Linked DNA regions of Homo sapiens. The protein of the gene in region 1 interacts with the protein of each later gene in a pairwise test. Each region holds a gene or a part of one and is shown in the gene's direction. Other genes may lie near its edges.

Region 1 (3,913 bases):
GAAATGAACAGGATCTGATAACCAGTGGAGGGCCAGGGAAGCTGCACAGGAGACAGAGGCTTCCAGCCTCTGAGCCAGAGGTGGATTCAGGAGAGTAGGAGGAGGTGGCTTAGGTAGGGAAGCGGTCTCAGTCGCCTTTAGCCTCCTTGAGTTTTAGGTGTCTGGGAGACTCACAGGTGGCCCTCTGTAGGCGGCTGGTGTGAGGGGCTGGAGCCCTGGGGGCTCAGAGGCAGTGGTGGGAGTGGGTGGAGGTGTCTGGGGGTGGGGAAGTTGTGAGAGGCAGGGAAGGGGTCTGAGAAAAAGCTTCCAGAAGGACAGACCCAAAAGGAGGAGTATGTTAGCAAAGCCCAAGAAAAGTGTGCTTCAAGGAAGAGTGTCCATTAGAGCAACTGGTTTTATTAATGACTATAATAATAATGTATTTAAAAATTTTACTAGCCGGGCGTGGTGGCACCCACCTGTAACCCCAGCTACTCAGGAGGCGTAGGCAGGAGAATTGCTTGAACCTGGGAGGCGGAGGTTGCAGTGAGTTGAGATCGTGCCACTGCACTCCAGCCTGGGTGACAGAGCGAAACTCCGTCTCAAAAAAAAAAAAATTATGAGCAATCCATAGGCGAGTGCAAATGGAAATCTCCAGGTTTGCAGATGCATTTTTCTGCTCCTGAAATGCCAAGGTGACAGGAATGAACTGCAGAGGGATCTTGCAAGTAAGCAGGAAAGTGACAAATGAACTGCACTATGGGTAAGTGTAAGGTAATACACTTGATAACATAATCTAGACTATATTGGCCAGGCGGACAAATCCTGAGCTCTCAGTTACAACCTGGGAAAGGAGCCAGGAGTCAGTATAGAGGCATGGGTCTGTCCCTTCGGATTAAGAATCTTTAACCTGGGGCCTGAAGACCATCTTCTGGGATTTCAAGCACCCTGCCTCCCCCGGAAATTGAATGCACCAGGGAGTGAAGTGTGGGGAGAGAGGAGCAGGAGAGAGGAGATCCTCAGAGGGGTTTGGAAACCCAGTCCTGGAGTTCCGTTCAACATGCTAACCTAACGTTGGGCCTCCCCGAGGAGGGTGTGGTTCTGAGGTTTCTCCCCCTCCCAGTTTCCCACCTTGCTGAAGAAACTTGCCCTTGACATGCAAATGATGGAAACACATTGGTGTCTGGGGCACTTTGGTTTGTGGTTTTTACCATCAGCTGTCTCTGAGGCTGAGCGTGTCGATCTGTCTCAGCAAGGCTAGCAAATTGCAAGCGCTCAGAGGAGGGGAGAGGGGGGCTATTCCTGGGGTTCTGGGCCCAGATGGGCAAATGGGTCTGTAAGGCAGACTTTTCCAGGAGGAGGGTGCAGACCCTTTGCAAGTTGTTTGGGGACAGAGCTTAGTTTGCATCTGGCCTTCTTCACCCTCCTCAGATCCCCTAGGTAGCAGGGTGCTTGGTGGTCACCACCTGACCTAGGCTACCTACTCCCAAATTGGAGTCTGAAATGAAAGCACGTGGGAAAAGTATAGCAAAGGTCAGTTTCCCATTTATTAAACAAGTTCTTCCGTGGAAAATCTTCCCAGGGCTCAGCAGCCCTTGAAGTGATCAGGGATGCTGGGGAGGTTGGGGGAGGAGAAAATGGGAGATGGCAGGTGGTATCTGTCGGTGTGGACGAGTGATAGCTTTGATTTGCTCCCCCTTCCCACCATCTCCTGTGTCCTCAGCATTTGATTTGGTTTCCTTTCCGGGGCCCTAATTCCAGGGAGGTGCCCCTCCTCCACACCTGTGTCCCAAGCCCCAGCTGTGCGTCCTCACCCTGGGTTCCTGGCACTGACCTGGAACCTGTCGGGCAGCCCTGCTCTTAGCTCCCCGCGGAGTCTCGGAGGTCTCAGGTCTCCTCCGCCCACCCTCTCCGCAGCTGGGAGGGGCAGGATGCCCCGCACCCCGCTCTGCGCGGGAGGTCGAGGCACCCCGCTCACGCCCTCCTGCCCGCAAGCTAGGGAGTCACTGCGGCCGGGGAGGGAGGTACACGGAGGGCATTTTTCCAGCCTTCACTGGGTGCTCCCCTCTCCACCCCCGGCAACCATGTAGGTTTCCGGACCCCCAGGTCCGCTTCCCTCCTCTCTGGAAAGGGGTCGGCCATAGGGAAAGGGCCCGGGGGCGCCGCAGCCGGGCCCCCGCCCCGCCCCGCCCGCAGCCCCGCTCCTCCCCGCGCGGCCCCACTTGTGGCCCTGCCGGCAGCCGCGCAGGGACAGCTGCATTTCTCGCCGCCCGCCGCTAGGAAGCCGGCCTCGCCTCACTTTCTCCGCCTCCCCGCGCCCCAGCCGCGCCGCCGCCGCCGAGCCTGGCCCCGCCGCCACCGCTGCGGATTGCAGCCCCTCCCCCGCCCGGCCCGCGGCCCGGCCCCTGCGGCCCGCGCGGAGCGGACGCGCGTGGCGCTGCCCGGTAAGACCCCCGCGCTCCCGCGGCTCCCGCCCGGCCCCGGGCGCGGTCCTCGCCGGCGCCCCGCGCGCAATCCCGGCCGCGGCCCCGGCCCAGCGGCCCCACCTTCTCGGGACCCGTTGCCCAGGCGCCGCCGGGAGGGCCGGGCCGTCGCGAGTTTGATTCCCGGGGCTGTCGGCGCGGCTCCCCGGGAGCTCCGCGTGCGGCAGGTCCCCGCCCGCCCTTCCTTCCCGAGCCCCCACCTCATCCCGGGCCCCGGGCGCGGGGGGCGTGCGGGCATCTGGGGGGCCGGGAGCGGGGCGCGCGATTAGACCGGGGGGCGCGGGCCAGCGCCGCAGGGAAGGGAGACGAGGCCTCCCGGAGCCGGCTTCGCCCGAGTCCCCTCTCCCGCCGCTCCCCCTTTTGTGTGGGCGCCCCTCCCCGCAGTGCCCGGGCCTGGGGGCGCAGGCTGGGCGGCGACGGCAGGCGGGGGCGCCTGCTGGGAGCCGAGCGCCTTTCAGGGGGAGGGGAGCTTCGCTTCCTGCCCCCCGCCGATGTCACAGGTCGGCTCAGCCTTTTTTGGTCCCTCCCGGTCCCCTGGGAGCTGTATCTCCCGTCAGCTCGGCCAGGGAAAGTTGGGAATGCGCTGTCCCCGCCCCTGCTCGCCCGCCCCGCCGGCTCCTGTGCCCCAGGCTCTGAGCTCCAAGGGGGGCTGGTGTCAGCGTTTATTCATTCCTCCCTCTTCCTTTTCTCGGTCGCGTGGTCGCCTTACACCCAGCACTGCCCTGCCCATTTCTTTTCCCCTTAAAAAAAGTTTTAGCTCTAAGAAACGTACACTGAAATTAAATTCCTGAGACGGAATGTGTTTTAAGGGGAGGGAGGGTTTAGATTTTCCTTTTTTTGGTGGAGTAGTGGAGTAGAAGATGAGGGGACTCCCTGGGAGTTTAGAAACAAGATGCCCTGGAGGCGATAGAGGATACAAGAAGACCATCCACCGTGCTCCCCACCTGATCCGCAGTCAGCGTCTTGTAGCGAGAGGAATGAGCCTTCCCTGGGTGATCCCGCAGCACCTGAGCCACCTGGCCCAGGAGAAAGGACTCAGGGAGATGTACTGGGCCTTTCACCCCTTTTCTTTATAGCCAGCTGTGCCTGAAGGAGGTGAGGGACCCCAGGAATTCTCTCACGGAGGAAGTCATCTCACCATGTGGTTGGGCCCCTGCTGGATCAAGTGTGAAGCTGGGTCCTCTCTGTTGTTGGGGGTCAGTGCCACTGGTACCTCAGTTTGAATATGGTGCCATCTCTGGGATGGAGAGGTGCTGCTGGGAGAAACCTGGCTCGGGTCTCCAGGAAGCTGGAGCGTGTGCAGCAGGGCTGGGTGTGAAACCCGCTGTCCACTTTCTGCAGCTGGAAGGGCCAGGACAAGGGAAACAGGATACTGCTACCGACCTGGGCACATCCTTGAATAGAAGAGAGACCCTGGACAGCGAGGATGGCCCAGGGATGTTGATATGACT
Region 2 (3,913 bases), on another chromosome or scaffold:
GTATCAGAATTGAACTGTGGGACACCCAGCTAGCATCAGAAAATTAGTTGTCAGGAGAAACTCCTCACCCCACATTTGGTCACAGAAGTCTTCTGTGTTGAGAGAGTAGGAAAAACATTTTGATTCTTCCAATCTCATAGAAACCCAGATGCCCTTCAGTGGGTAAATGGGTAAACAAATTGGTACATCTATTACTGTTTGGTTCTTAGTCTTATTTGGAGAAAGAATTCTGCCAAGCTACTGGTTTAGCCAGAGAAAGAGAATTCATTGAAGGAAAATACAGAGTAGGGAGTTTATCTAGAGAGACAGTACACTCTGAAAAGATGAGGCAGGGCGAGCTGCTGAAAGAGAGTGAGCCAGCAGCACCCCGAGAGTGGTGGGTTTTTATGATTTCAGATTTTTTCTTGAAGTTCCTGCCTCTTTCTTAAGTCTCCGCCTTTTTACTTTGTTTAGTTTTCTGCATCTGCCTTAAGTCCCTGCCTTTTCCCTCACCTAGTTCCCGCCCCAAGGTTGTGGGACCCTCCCTTACTATTGGTGTGCACGCGTGAACCCGATGTTGGACACAAATTGCTTCTGCGTATCTCTTAGGAATTTTCTCCTTTGCCCTCTTCCCTTTAGCATGCATCTAGCTACATTCTGGCAGGTTAACTGGCAGAGTGAGCAATCACTGGGGTCTTAAGGGGGATTCCTTTCTGCCTAGGTATTTCCCCTCCTGTCTGTTCATATCTAGCACGCCTGTTTGGGGTGATCCCTGGGGCATGAGATTTTCCAGACTCCTTTTCTCAGGGCAGCCCTTCTCCTCCTCATGTCTGTTTATCTGCCTATTCTACCACATCTATGCCGTGGAATACTACTCATCAGTAAGAAAGGAACAAATTATTGACACGTGCAACAGCTTGGATGGATCTTAAGGGAATTGTGCAGAGTGAAAAGAACCAATTTCAATTGGTTACCTACTATACGATTCCATTTATATAGCGTTCTTGAAATGACAAAGTTGTGGAGATGAGGACAGAGTTGTAGTTGCCAGGAATTGAAGTAAAGGGAGAAGGCAACTATGGCTATCGCAGGGTACCATGAAGAATGTTTGTGATAGAGTTGTTTGTGTGTTGACTGGTGGTATTCACACAAATCTATACATGTGATAAAATTACATAGAACTAAATATACTTAATATGCATGAGTGCACATAAAAATGAAACTGGAAAAGGTCAGTGGACTGTATTAATGTCAGTTTCCTGCAGTATACTGTAGTTATACAGGATGTTTTCATTGGGGAAAATTGAGTGAAAAATACATGGGATCTCTTTATTTCTTACAACTGTACATGAATCTACAATTATCCCAGAATTATAAATTTTTAACGAAAGAACAGAGGCATTGATGCTGAGAGACAAACCGTAGGCTTTTGGATCAGCACAATTGTGTTCAAATTCTGGCTTCCACTTACCACTTGTGGGATCTTGAGCCAGTTCTTTAACCTCCCTTTGCCTTAGTTTCATCATTTTTCAAGTGGTTGCCAATAATATTATTTTCCCTATTGAGTTGTTTTGAGGGTTAATTATCAATATTATGTAAGCCACTCATTGGTTAAATTGGGATCGTAAAAATATTTTATCTTTTCATTTAGCACTTAAAGGGATAGGCACTCTGCCTTCTCCAGAGAAATTTTAATATCACGAGATAGTCTCTGTTTCATTAACTTAGGCTAGTGTCTTTATTTCTTCTTTCATGGAGTTTACTCTGTTGTTCTTTTACTACCTTCCTGAGTTGGACACTTAACTCATTAAATATCTGTCTTCCTTCCTAATGTATGTGTTTGAAACTGTAGATTTCTCTTTTACAACTGTTTTAGCTGAGTCACAAAATTTTGATATTGGCAACCCAATATTTTCATTGTCATTCAGCAATAATAGTAACTGATTTTTTTCTTTGATCCAAGAATTATTTGAAAATGAGTTTTTCAGTTTCCAAACATATGATAGGGGGATCTTTTATATGTAGATTCTGACTTTACATTATGGTCTTAATAATGTCAATTCTTTGAAATATGTAAAGCTTCTTTTGTGGCTTAGCATGGGATCAGTTTTTACAAATGTTTCTTAAATGTTCCTTAATCATTAAGTGTAGGATTGTGTCTTCATTCACTCCCTTGATTTTGTTTATCCAATTGTTCAGATCTCCAATATCCTTACTAATCTTTAGTCTGGTTGACCTATCAGTTACTGTGGTGAAAATGTCCCTCTTTGATTATAGCTATGTCATTTTCTCCTTATAATTTTGCACATTTTTACTTTGTATACTTTTGGCTATATTGTTAGATACAGCACATTCAGAATTGTTACTGTTTTCTTGATGAGTTGTTTATTTTATCAGTAACGTTCTTTGTTTCTAACAATGCTTTTTCCCTTAAACATATTTTGATCTGATAATATAGTCATTTAAGCTGTTTTTGTTAGCTAGTGTTTACACAGTATATGTATCTAGGATTTAGAATTCTCAGGAAAAACATTTCTCTTCTCATTCTAGAGCCCACGCTTTCTTTGGTAAGTTTCTTTGCTATCTCTGTCATAAGGCATATCTTTTCAAGTCCATGCATTTACTGAAAGACTAGCCATTCGAGTTTCCTAATTGATATAAGGGCGCTCAATTCTAAATTCTTGCAACATACAGGCCTAAGATTTCATCTTCTTTTTCCATGAGGGCATCAAAACCCAAACCTCCACTTTATTAAGACTGAGTACCATCTTTTACTCCCTTCCCTCTTCCCAAAACCCCACCCATGGCAGGTGCAGTCTCAGCTTGTTGCGCTTACTATAATTTTTGGTTTTTAATTCTGGGCTCTGGGAATTCCCCTTACAGATTTTGCTATGCATTTTAAAGAATGTTGGTTATATTTTCTTCAACATTTCTAGGCATTTAAGATGTGTATGTAGGTGTCATGGATTATCTGGTCTGGCATGATGCTAGAAGGGCAGTTCTCATTAGAAGTACTAATTTAACCTGAGAATGATGTCTCTTGTTCGACAACCACATAAGTCTCTAGATTTGCCCTTTCTGAGACTTCGCATCATGTAAATTACATAAATCTGGTGTTTGACTGGATGCTGGATGCCCTGGTGGAGTGGCAGCACCTGCAGAGATCTGCATGTGTGTTTTTCTTGGTTCAGAGCTATTTTGAACATAGGGTACCAAAAGACTGTCTTTAGAACCCTGAGATTTTTGTATATTTCAACTTAAAATTTAAGAACATTTATGAACATAATATTAATCAATAATATTCACATCTTATTGCCGTTTACATAACACTTTTATTAAACAGTTTTAGTAGTTATAAAACTGATTTGCACTTAATTATTTTCGTAGTTATAAAACTGATTTGCACTTAATTATTTTCAGTTGAAGTGTTTTACAAATGATATGGTCATGTTTCACAATTACATGTAAGCAGCATACAGTGGTGATCTAGCTATCACAGGGCAAAGGTAGGATGCACTAATATTACGTTTTAAAAATAAAATTTAAGAAGGAAAAGGTTTCTAAATTACAGCTAATTGTAACTAGTAATATAACTAAAATAGTAAATTGTAACTACTATAATTATACTAATATAGTTCTATGAACTGGGCATGTTATTTATATAAATGCCTTAGTTTATGTTTTAAAACTGTGTTATAGGCCGGGTATGTTGGCTTACACCTGTAATCCTAGCACTTTGGGAGGCCAAGGCAGGCGGATGACTTGAGGTCAGGAGTTCAAGACCAGCCTGGCCAACATGGCAAAACCCTGTCTCTACTAAAAATACAAAAATTAGCTGGGTGTGGTGGCGGGCACCTCTAATCCCAGCTACTTGGGAGGCTGAGGCAGGACAATCGCTTGAACCCGGGAGGTGGAGGTTGCAGTGAGCAAAGAT

Evidence for each region.
Region 2: the proteins of CUEDC1 (region 1) and UBE2E2 interact in binary tests that used the Homo sapiens proteins (3 or more experiments, as listed by UniProt).

What each region holds. Positions count from the first base shown.
Region 1 is NC_000017.11:57,953,735-57,957,647, reverse strand, and holds the start of CUEDC1 (CUE domain-containing protein 1), read left to right. Parts: upstream 1-2,235; 5' UTR 2,236-2,423; intron 2,424-3,913.
Region 2 is NC_000003.12:23,528,103-23,532,015, forward strand, and holds part of UBE2E2 (ubiquitin-conjugating enzyme E2 E2), read left to right. Parts: intron 1-3,913.